Linked DNA regions of Homo sapiens: region 2 is linked to region 1. Evidence: fine-mapped expression QTL. A gene starts in region 1. The other region holds a variant in brackets. All regions are shown on one strand. Distances are between the middles of the regions. Region 1 holds the start of ALDH1L2 (aldehyde dehydrogenase 1 family member L2). Region 2 has its middle 34 kb from the start of APPL2.

Region 1 (5,381 bases):
GTCACCCAGCTGGAGTGCAGTGGCACAACCACAGCTCACTGAAACCTCAATCTGCCAGCTCAAGCGATCCTCCTTACTCAGCCTTCCGAGAAGCTGGGACTAGAGGCACGTGACCATGCCTGGCTAATTTTTGTATAATTTTTGTATTTTTTTGTAGAAACAGTGTTTCACCATGTTGCCCAGGCTGGTCTCGAACTCTGCCCACCTCATCTTCCCAAAGTGCTGGGAATACAAGCGTGAGCCACCACGTCCAGTCCAATGTTCACTTTAAATTTGCTCACGTCTTTGCCTTTTTTGTTGGGCTTCTTGCATTTCTAGGTTTCCATGTGGGTAAATTTTTTTTTCCTGCTGGAAGGATACTCTTTCATATTTCCTTTATTGTCTGTCTGCCGATGACAAATTCTCTCAAGTTTTTGTTTCTAAAAATGGCTTTGTCTTATCTCTATTTTTAAGGAGTATTTTTGCTGGGTATAGAAATAGATTGGCAGGGGTTGGTCTCTTTGTCAAACTCTAATTGCATCTGATCTAATTTCCAGTTATCAAGGAAACTATACTTTTGATTCTTCCAGGGAAAAAGTAAACACAATGAATATTTCATTATATTTGAGTGAACATAAATTCTACATTTCCTAAACTTGGGAATAGTAATATATAACTATGGAACCTCATTCAGGAAAAAAAAAAAAAAAAAAAAAAAACCCCTCCTTATGCACCCTTCTAGTATACACAGATCAGAATAAATAAAGGGAATATCAATATTTGGAAGTTTAAAAAAGCAAGAAGTCACAAAATGCAGTCAGGAAAGTGGGTTGAATTGGCAAGATGTAGGGCTCAAAGCAAAACCTTGGATGTTTGTTGCAATTCTCCAAGTTTTTTTTTTTTTGAAACAGAGTCTCCCTCTGTCGCCCAGGCTGGAGTGCAGGGGCGCGATCTCGGCTCACTGAAAGCTCTGCCTCCTGGGTTGACGCCATTCTCCTGCCTCAGCCTCCCAAGTAGCTGGGACTACAGGCGCCCGCCACACGCCCGGCTAATTTTTTGTATTTTTAGTAGAGACAGGGTTTCACCGTGTTAGCTAGGATGGTCTCGATCTCCTGACCTCGTGATCCGCCCACCTCGGCCTCCCAAAGTGCTGGGATTACAGGCGTGAGCCACCGCGCCCAACCGCAATTCTCCAAGTTTTAATGATGGTTCTTTTTTGTCTCCTTACTCTCTTAAACACATTCATCCGTTTCAACAAGTTTTTTTTTAACAAGTTATTTTTTATTTTATTATTATTTTTTTAAAGCTCTGGTTAGTGCTAGATACTGTAAATCCTGATTAATCAGACATGGACTTAGCTTGCAAGGAGCTTCCAACAGAGACGTTAATAGGTATACAAATACCAGTAGCAGATTGAGACAGCCATAACAGATGCATAGACAAAGATTATTTCCTGTTAAGAGGAGTGAACAATTATTTATGGGGAATAAGGAGACTAAGAGAGAAAAGAATCAGAAAAAAGCGCCTCCAGGAGGCAGCATGTAAGCGGTACCTTTCAGAAAAGAAACGGTCGTGCCAAGATAATTACAAGTGACAGATGACAAGCTTTTCTGGGAAACATTGTCCAAGAAGGAATAGGCAAGAACTGCAGTCAAGCAGAATTACATATGCAAAAGAGCAGTGAGAAATAAGAGAAAATGGCAAATTGCAGACGGCCCTGAATGCTGGGCTAAGAAGTCTGGCTTGAGATAAACGTCCAGCTAAAGCAGGTCTGAGCGTTTTTTCCAGAGAGGTGAGGGAGAAGGGCACGTATCTATTAGGTTGATGCAAAAGTAATTGCGGGTTTGCCATTATTTTCAGTGGCAAAAACCACAATTACTTTTGCACCAATTTATTTATTTATTTTTAAGACAGAGTCTCGCTCTGTTGTCCAGGCTGAAGTGCAGTGGCATGATCTCAGCTCCACTGCAACCTCCGCCTCCCCGGCTCAAGTGATCCTCGTGCTTCAGCCTCCCGAGTAGCTGGGACTGCAGGCATGCGACATCACGCCCGGCTAATTATTTTATTATTTTATTATTTTTTATTTTTAGTAGAGACGGGGTTTCACCATGGTGGCCAGGCTGGTCTCGAACTCCTGAGCTCAGGCCATCTTCCCTCCTCGGCCTCCCAAAGTGCTGGGATTACAGGCGGGAGCCACCGCGCCCGGCCTACCGTCCTACGAGGTAGGCATCAGGATCCCTCCACAGCGAAGGCGCCCCCACTACCTATCTGTCTACAGGCGTGCCTTTTACGGGCTGTGCTATGGACAGCACTTGGGATGTCAGATTGACCACTAATAAGGTAGATCCGTATACACTGCTGCGGGGCTGAGTAACTGGTAGAGGGTCCCACAGTTAGAAAGCACCTGGACCTTGGCTGGAATTGGCGGAAAGTCCAGGCAGCGGAGAGGCGCGGTCCCTGGGACTGGGTGCGCTCTTGGCACCAGGGTCAGGGCCCACAGGCTCCAGGAAGCCCACGCGCTCCGCCGGGTCGCACCAGGTTGGCTGTCCGAACGCAGCCAGCTGGCGGGGCGGGGCCTTCCAGCTGGGGGCGGGGTCTTGACAGCTAGGGGGCGGGGCCTTGCAGCTGGTAGGGTGGGGCGGGCCGCGGGCTGTGGGCTTTGGGAGGGGTGCGGACTAGCAGAGGCCGAGAGCGGCGAGCCGCGAGCCAGGCAGTCCGGGGCATCCAGACTGCAGGCCGCGCCCAGGCCGCGCCCAGGCTGCGCCGCCCGCCTGCCTCCCGCGCTGCCGCGTCGCCAGTGCTAGCGCTCCTCTCCAGCATGCTGCGGCGGGGCAGCCAGGCGCTCCGGCGCTTCTCCACTGGCCGGGTGAGTCCGGCCCGGGCGAGCGTCCCGGCTGTCACCCTGTCCTGGTTTCCAGACTCCGGGGCGGGAGGGCCGGGGCGGTGGGGCTGGGGATGAGCAGCGATGCTTAGACTTTGCTAAACACCAAGACAGCGTTTAAAACAAACAAACAAACAAACAAAAACAGAGAGACCTCAGAGGAGGGCTTGGGGAGGGTCCCGGATGGGAACTGGCACGCAGGCCATTGTCTTCTGCCGGGAGGGGGCTGAGGATGCAGTTTTTGGACGTGTCAAGTCTGGCTGGGATGGCAAGGTGGGAACAGTCACTTGGTAAGGAGGACAGAGTCTGCTTCCTTTCCTTTTTCACTTCAATCATGAGATCCCTGGTCAAGAGCTGGAGCCATATGGAACCGAGACTGTCTCCTGGAGGAGGGGAGTATCAAGTCAATAGGGTCCTCGTTGGCGGCCTGGGAGGTGTAAGCGCTCGAGACTGGCACGCAGGGCCGGTTCAGATAATGGCACTCAAAGCTGATGGCTGCAAGCTCAGTATTCCTGAGCTGAGCTGCAGATGGCAAAATTTCTAGAATTGCCAGGCGCTGCAGAGGCAGCCACGCTGGAACACTATTCTACTGTAGCACAAGAACCGAGCTCTGGCCCAGCCCCGCGCCTTGGAATTGCATCAGCTCCTCCAGAAATGGAACCGAGAGAGGACACGTTGCACTGCGGTGCTGCCTTCAGCACCCAGGGGGCCTCGGGACTGTTTAGGGAAGAGAGAGAGAGAAAAAAAAAAAATAAAAACTGTCTTATGTATCGTATCTTTTATAGGAAGTACATAAAAGAATTTGCTTATCGATTCTTTTTCTCGGCCATGCCAAAGCCATATGTACATATGTATATATTCAGATGTAAAAAACTTGGAGGCAGAGAGAAGTCTTGAGTAGCACCAAAAACTGGCCCAAACTTGCATCAAAGGAAAAGCTTTCTGTATCCCAGACAACCCCAAATAATAAGAATTCGTTTTACTCTTTGCAACCAGTTCTAGTTACTTTGAGGTATAGTCACCTTTTATAAAACGAGGGGTGGGGGTGGGGAAGACCTGCTCTGCTAGGACTTTGGCCTGCTCTCCTGGACCCCTCATTAGCTTCCCCCACCACGTGGCACATGGGATCCCAGATGGATAGCACAGAAAGCAACGGGCTGTGCCCAATGCCTGAGCCTGTTTTGTTGGCCTCCTCTGTCAACACCTTTCACTGACTTGTCTTTTTTGGTGACCAGAAGGAAGTCTTGCAGAATGAAAAGATTTTGATAGTGCGGTTTGCATAAGATTTCAGTAATAAAAGGTAAACATCTCAGGTGGCAAATGGCATAAACAAAACTATGGATGTGGGGAAGAACTGGCGTGATCAGGGTCTAACTGTACGCAGGGGTGCATATGGAAAAGCAGTGATACTCATGGCTGGGAAGAAGACAGTTTCCTCAGTGGTCGAAAGGAAGCTACTGAGTGGTGAATGAAAAATGTGGGATGTTTTATCCTGTAGAAAATGTTCTGGACTGTGTTTTATAAGAATTATTCAAAATCAAACAGATACATGGCTGGTGGAAATATAAAATGGTACAGCCACTTTGGAAAACTGTTTGGCAGTTTTATATGTAGTTAAACATAAACCTATCATATGACCCCGGAATCACACTCCTAGGTATTTACTCAAAAGAAATGAAACCTTATTTGCCCGCATAGAAACCTGTTTATTGATGTTTCTAGAGGTTTTATTCATAATTGCCAAAAACTGGAAATAAATTGTCCTCAGCTGGTGACAGGATAAACAAGCTGTGGTATATCCATCCATACAATGGAATTCTACTCAGTTGGGGGAAAAAGGAATGAACTACTGATGCATACAACATGGATGGAACTCAAATATGTATGCTAAGTGTAAGAATCAGACTCATAATGCTACATATTTTATGATTTCATTTATCTGACATTTTGGAAGAGTAAAACTATAGGGACAGAAAAAAGATCAGTGATGTCTGGAGCTGGAGATAGGAGGAAGGATTGATTATAAATAGGCATAAAGGAATTTGGGCGGTAATGGAACTGTTCTACATCTTGATTATGGTAGTGGTTACGTGACTGTGTGTTTGTTAAAACTCACAGCACAGTACACTGAAGAGGGTGCATTTTACCCATGCAAATTATCTTTTAATTTTTATTGTTTTGAGACAGAGTCTCACTTTGTCACTCAGGCTGGAACGCAGTGGCACAATCTTGACTCACTGCTACCTCTGCCTCCGGGGTTCAAGCAATTCTCCTGCCTCAGCCTTTTGAGTAGCTGGGATTACAGACATGCACCACCATGCCCAGCTAATTTTTGTATTTTTAGTAGAGACGAGGTTTTGCCATGTTGGCCAGGCTGGTCTTGAACTCCTGGCCTCAAGTGATCCTCCTGCCTCGGCCTCCTAAAGTGTTGGGATTACAGGCATGAGCCACTGTGCCCGGCCTAATTATCCCTTTATCTTTAAAATTTAAAAATCAAACAATGCTTTTAAGTTTAGTATTA
Region 2 (5,381 bases), 190 kb before region 1:
GGCTCACGCCTGTAGTTCCAACACTTTGGAAGGCTGAGGCAGGTGGATCACTTGAGTCCAGGAGTTCGAGACCAGCCTGGGCAACATAGTAAGACCCTGTCTCTACGAAAAATACAAAAATTACCAGGGCGTGGTGGTATGCACTTATAGTACCAGCTGCTTGGGAGGCTGAGGCAGGAGGATCACTTGAGCCCAGGGAAGTCGAGGCTGCAGTGAGCTGAGATCACGCTGTTGACTTCCTAGAACTGAATCAAAAGAAAAACCCCACCTCTCCACACCCAAGTAACAAAAGGATCAGAGGCTACTCCCTTTGCACTGCATGGTAGATGATAAATGAAAAGTACCTCCAATTGGTCCCTTCCCACAACCAATCAGACTACCCAATTCTTCATGTGTAACATTGTAATTTCACTTCAGCCTCTGACTGGTCACCTCCCATGACCAATCAGTCTGGTCGTGGGCCACTCCTTCATTTACATAGGGTGTAAACAAGTAACCAATGGGAAACCTCTAGAGAGAATTTAAACCCCAGAAAATTCTGTAACCAGCCTCTTCAGCCGCTTGCTGGAGCAGGCTCCCACTCCATGGAATGTACTTTTGTTTTAGTAAATCTGTGCTTTCGTTGCTTCATTCTTTCATTGTGCTTTGTTTGTGTGTTTTGTCCAATTCTTCGTTCCAAACACCAAGAACCTGGACAACTCATAGTCAAGACCCTCCACCAGTAAAAGGGAACAACTGCACTCCCCCCAGGCAACAGATTGAGATCCTGTCTGATTAAAAAAAAAAAAAAAGTATTTTTCTACTCCAATGTGCTGTGTCTATTGGTCTATACTTACCTCCCTTTTTCTCTTAGACTTCCCATTGTTCCTGTTTTACTCCTCTGACCCACTACTAATGGCTAATTAAAATGTTTTTCCCAGTCTAGAAATGGATTTCCTGTCTAAGTCTACAGAAAGACATGCGTGCAGAAAAGCACAAGCGTTTTAGCCGTGAACCTCTTTTCAAATGAAATCTTACCTGGAATTCTAAGATACAAAATTGTAGTTTTTCAGGTTGAAGTTGGTGCAGAGGACCTGAGGAGCACAATCCAACTCCAGCTGTGGCAACTCTGTTTGTTATCTGACAAACTCTCAGATGTATAATATAGGATGGTGACTCTTGACAAAGCACAGAATAGAATTTTGACAAGCCTAATGATTTTTGAAAACTCTTTGTCAAATCTTGTCATATACTATGAGGATCCATCAAAATGACAATCTGCACACCCTGCCAACATGACTAATTCCTTAAAACAATGAGAAAACTCATTACTTTGAAAGAAAGAAGAAAATGTAGAAAGAGATGTTTAGCATCCTCTCTCTTTTAACAATTATGTGGCTTATAAAACAGACAATAGATATACAGCCAACATTGCGATTTAATTAGGGCAATAGTTTCAAAATGACTCTATCAGAAACTAGAGAAGGGAATATCTTTGGAGAGCCTGAGCCTGTGTTTCAAACCACTGCAGCAGCAGAGCAACTAAGAAAAGAATAATAAACGGTTGTGATATTTAAGGGTGGACACTTTTAAGCAGTAAATAAACAAAAATTATCGTTATCACCATCATCATCATCAAATCTGACACTTTGAGCACGAAGCCTGTGTTGGACACTGTGCTAAATATGCTGTGTGCACCCCCTCATTTCATCCTGACAGCCCTCTGAGGGTGATACTGATATTATCTCTGAGAGATTAAGTGGCTTGCTCAGAGTCACATAGCTGATAAGTGGCAAAGCTGGGGCCAGACCTCAAGTCCATCTGTCTCCCAAGTTCTTTAATACAACTGAAGCTTGTAAGTATTGGAATGTGAGGAGCCCAAAATCCCAAGCACAGATCCATAGCCAGGGGTTCCAGTACTCACTGGAATTTGGTCTCCCCCTCCCTACTTCACTCACCGAAAAAGGATGACTACAGATGTGAACTTTCACAAGTCTGGGATTCATGACACCTTATGTGGAACTGATTAGTTCAAAGACCTCAAGCAGAGAGTCTCTCCTTTATTTTCTCAGTAGGTCTGTGAGTTAAGGAGAGGAAGGTTTTATTATTGCTGACATCCATCCTAAAGAAGAAAAAACAGGCACAGAAGATGGTGAAACTTTTCAGGGTCATACAGGGAATCCTTATGACAGCAAGTCTTTCTGTAATAAACTATTGGCTTGCATGCTAGAAGGGACTTGTGGCCCCAGAAGCAAAGCCTAGACCCTGGCCTTCCTCCTTCTCACCTTCCTACTAAAGTCAGGGGCCTGAATGGGACCTTAAAAACAGGATCAAAATAGCTAATATTTATTAAGTTTTACTCTGTGCTTTATGTACATTACATCATTCATACCTCTCTGAAACCTTCTGCAGTAGGTACTATGTCCTCCAGGTAAGAAGAAAGGAAAATAGAGATTCAGCGTGGTTAGGAAGCTTGCTCAGGATGACACAGCTAGCTGGAAACAGAGCTGGAATTTGAATTTGGCCAGCCTTGCTTCTAATTTATACTCTTAACCTGGCACAAATCAGCCATGTCCAATGTACAAAAGGGTTATGTTTTAATTTGTTTGCTTAGAATTGGAACATGTTTTCTCTTATAAACAATTTTTAAATGGTAGGGCTCCCAGATCAGCCCACAGAGGCCTATTTATGCCTTGATGTTGTTCAAATTCACCTATTTGCAGAAAAAAATAGCAGGAACAAGATGTTTCAATTGATGATAATGAAAGTAAATATGAAAGCAAATACAATGAATAAGGAACATTTTAAAAATCTTAAATATCTATGTTGGGAAACTCCAAAATCACTAGAAGAGGTAAATGAAAATTTTGGGAAAGCTTCTGAAAATTTTTCCCAACCAATTTCAAGTACTTTAGAGGTGATTACTGCTGGCCATTTGTTATGAATTTCCTCTTTTCCGATCCAGATGCAACAGCATTAGTCATACACTCATCAAAAATATAAAGGCTGTTGTCTTTCAGTTTTGCACCCAAAAAGAGAGGTGCGTGATATAAAGAAAATGCATGAACTTTGAAACCCAGCAGACAGGGATTAAAAATCAAAATTCTGACAGATAGAGAAGCAATCAGAAAATCTCAGTCCCACTTTAGCAGGGCTTAAGTGAGTCTGTAAGTGGAAAGCT[A/G]TAAGTTTGGGTTGTCTGGTCATTCCTCTGAACAGAATAGGGTATAAGACCTTGGGTATCACACGTACAGACAGTTCGAAGAATTGGGGTGACTAAGTAAAAAGGCTAAAATTAAGAAAGATTAAAATGTATCATGAGAAACAAAACATTGAAATGAGTTAGGAGAAATTGCATGTACAAAAATCAACTCTGGTTCCAGGCTTGAAAGAAATCATTCTACGAACAAAGTAGGTATACTAATGAATGCCCAGAGGAGACCCACTGAACTGGTAGCTTTTCAAGATATCCCTCGCTGCAGTCAGGCCATAGGAGTGTAGGATAAGAAGAGACTGTAAAAAGTGAACCAGTACATTTCTTGGTTCTGGCTCAAACTGCCCTTACATCAAACCAGAAACCAAACCTTGGTCCTTTACTTAAAAATACCCAGATGATATTGCAAAACCTTTCTCAAGAACAACTGTTAGAAAGTGACATTCTTTTGAAAACTCAATAACCATCAACTTTTGTTAAATATTTTGCCTTCTTTTAGTTTATACTCTTGCCAATTGGACCTTTAGTAATGTTGACTGGAAGATTGATTGACTTTAAAATCCAAATCAAATTCTGAATCCTAACATTTTACATCCAACCAAATGCAGCTATTATCCATCCTTTTTTAATACCAAAAAGTTTTTTTAATACAAGATTTTTCTCAGTATGTCAATAATATCTCAGTAAAAAAAGAAAGACCTGTAAAATTTCAGTATCTTTTGTATGAAAGGTCACTTTTTTAAAAAAGGTGTTATTTTTCCATTTGAAAAATAAGCACACTGGTCAATCAACAGTTTATATCTGGTCCTTTTAGAGATTTTGCAAAACAATGAAGATTTTCTTTTTTTGACAACATTTTTCTTTCCATAAAACAATTATTGTTCAGGGGCAGATTTCATTGTTTTAGCAGTGGAGTAAGCCACAGCCCCAAACTGAGAGGAGAACGTGGAGGTCCTTGAGGCATCTTGAGATAAACAGTTCCCTTGGAAAGCTACAGCACCTTCTGTTTCCTCATCTCCACTGCTAGGAGAGGAGAGTCACTCTCCCACTAGTGAAAAAGCCAGACTTGGGTCTTGTTTATAGGACCAAATCATAGCCTAAGTAAGAGCAGGGAGAGCCAGGAAGCCATCTGACAGCTACAGAAGTTTTCTCTTGTATTACTTTCTTGAAAGTTTCTTAAAGCCCAGGGAATGCCAATCTAGATCCTGTTTACATTTTATATGCTCAATAACGGGGTGATGATCTGATATAAAAATCAGTCTTTTACAGTGTGGTCGGTAATATGTAGCCCTCTCGGGTCTAAGTGAGCCTTGCTAAAGCTACATTCAATGAGCGCAGTCTCTTATCTCACTACTCCAAGAAATATGTGTGTGTGTCTTTATGTGTACACACAAACACAGAAACACACACAGACTCACACGCATATATATAAATTGAAACTATGTGCCAGGGTTACTTGACACACATTTTTTAGTTGATGTTCACAGCCACCTCATAAGCTGGTGTTAATTCTTAAGCTTTAATACCGAGTCTTAAGAAAGGTTACAAATTTGCTGAAGATCTTATAGCTGGTAATGGTGGGGCTGGGATAGGAACCAGATGAACCTGGATGATTGCAGTGGTTAATGTAGCAGCTGTTACCAGTGTCCTGCTTACAGTCTTCACCGACGCTCCAGCTGATGACACAGCTCCCAGTGTGGGCCTCTAGGGCCTGGAGGCTCTTTTTGGAACCATGGAAAGCTATTCTAACTGACATATGCTTGTGCAGAGAAGCACCAGGAAATGACCACAGCCTGTCTGCACTCCAATAGCCCTCCAAATGTATCTCCCCTAGCCACTTGCTACTCAGGAAGAATTATTCTGAGATGTGTTTTTTACGCCATTTTTTAGAACATCCCTGTGAAATTACATTTCAATTGCCTACAGCAGTAGTTGGTTTAATAATGGAGCCTTGGCCAGGCACAGTGGCTCACACCTGTAATCCCAACACTTTGGGAGGCCGAGGCGGGTGGATCACCTGAGGTCAGGAGTTCAAGACCAGCCTGACCAACATGGTGAAACCCCATCTCTACTAAAAAATACAAAAATTAGACGGGCATGGTGGCAGGCGCCTGTAATCCCAGCTATTCTGGAGGCTGAGGCAGGAGAATCACTTGAACCTGGGAGGCAGAGGTTGCAGTGAGCCGAGATC

Evidence for each region. PIP is the estimated chance that this variant, and not a neighbour inherited with it, causes the effect. A credible set is the group of variants that fine-mapping cannot tell apart.
Region 2: its variant is the best candidate, but not a certain one, in a credible set for the expression of ALDH1L2 in esophagus mucosa (GTEx, PIP 0.88).

What each region holds. Positions count from the first base shown.
Region 1 is chr12:105,081,853-105,087,233 of GRCh38, reverse strand. ALDH1L2 (aldehyde dehydrogenase 1 family member L2) reads left to right here and starts at 2,776. Exons shown (of 23, transcript NM_001034173.4): 1 at 2,776-2,845. The coding sequence starts at 2,798. RefSeq lists a silencer at 2,469-2,898 and enhancers at 3,399-3,638, 3,133-3,933.
Region 2 is chr12:105,267,405-105,272,785 of GRCh38, reverse strand. No RefSeq gene overlaps it. Among named protein-coding and RNA genes, the nearest start is that of APPL2, 34 kb to the right of the region's middle. The variant A/G (reference allele first, on the strand shown) is at 3,161.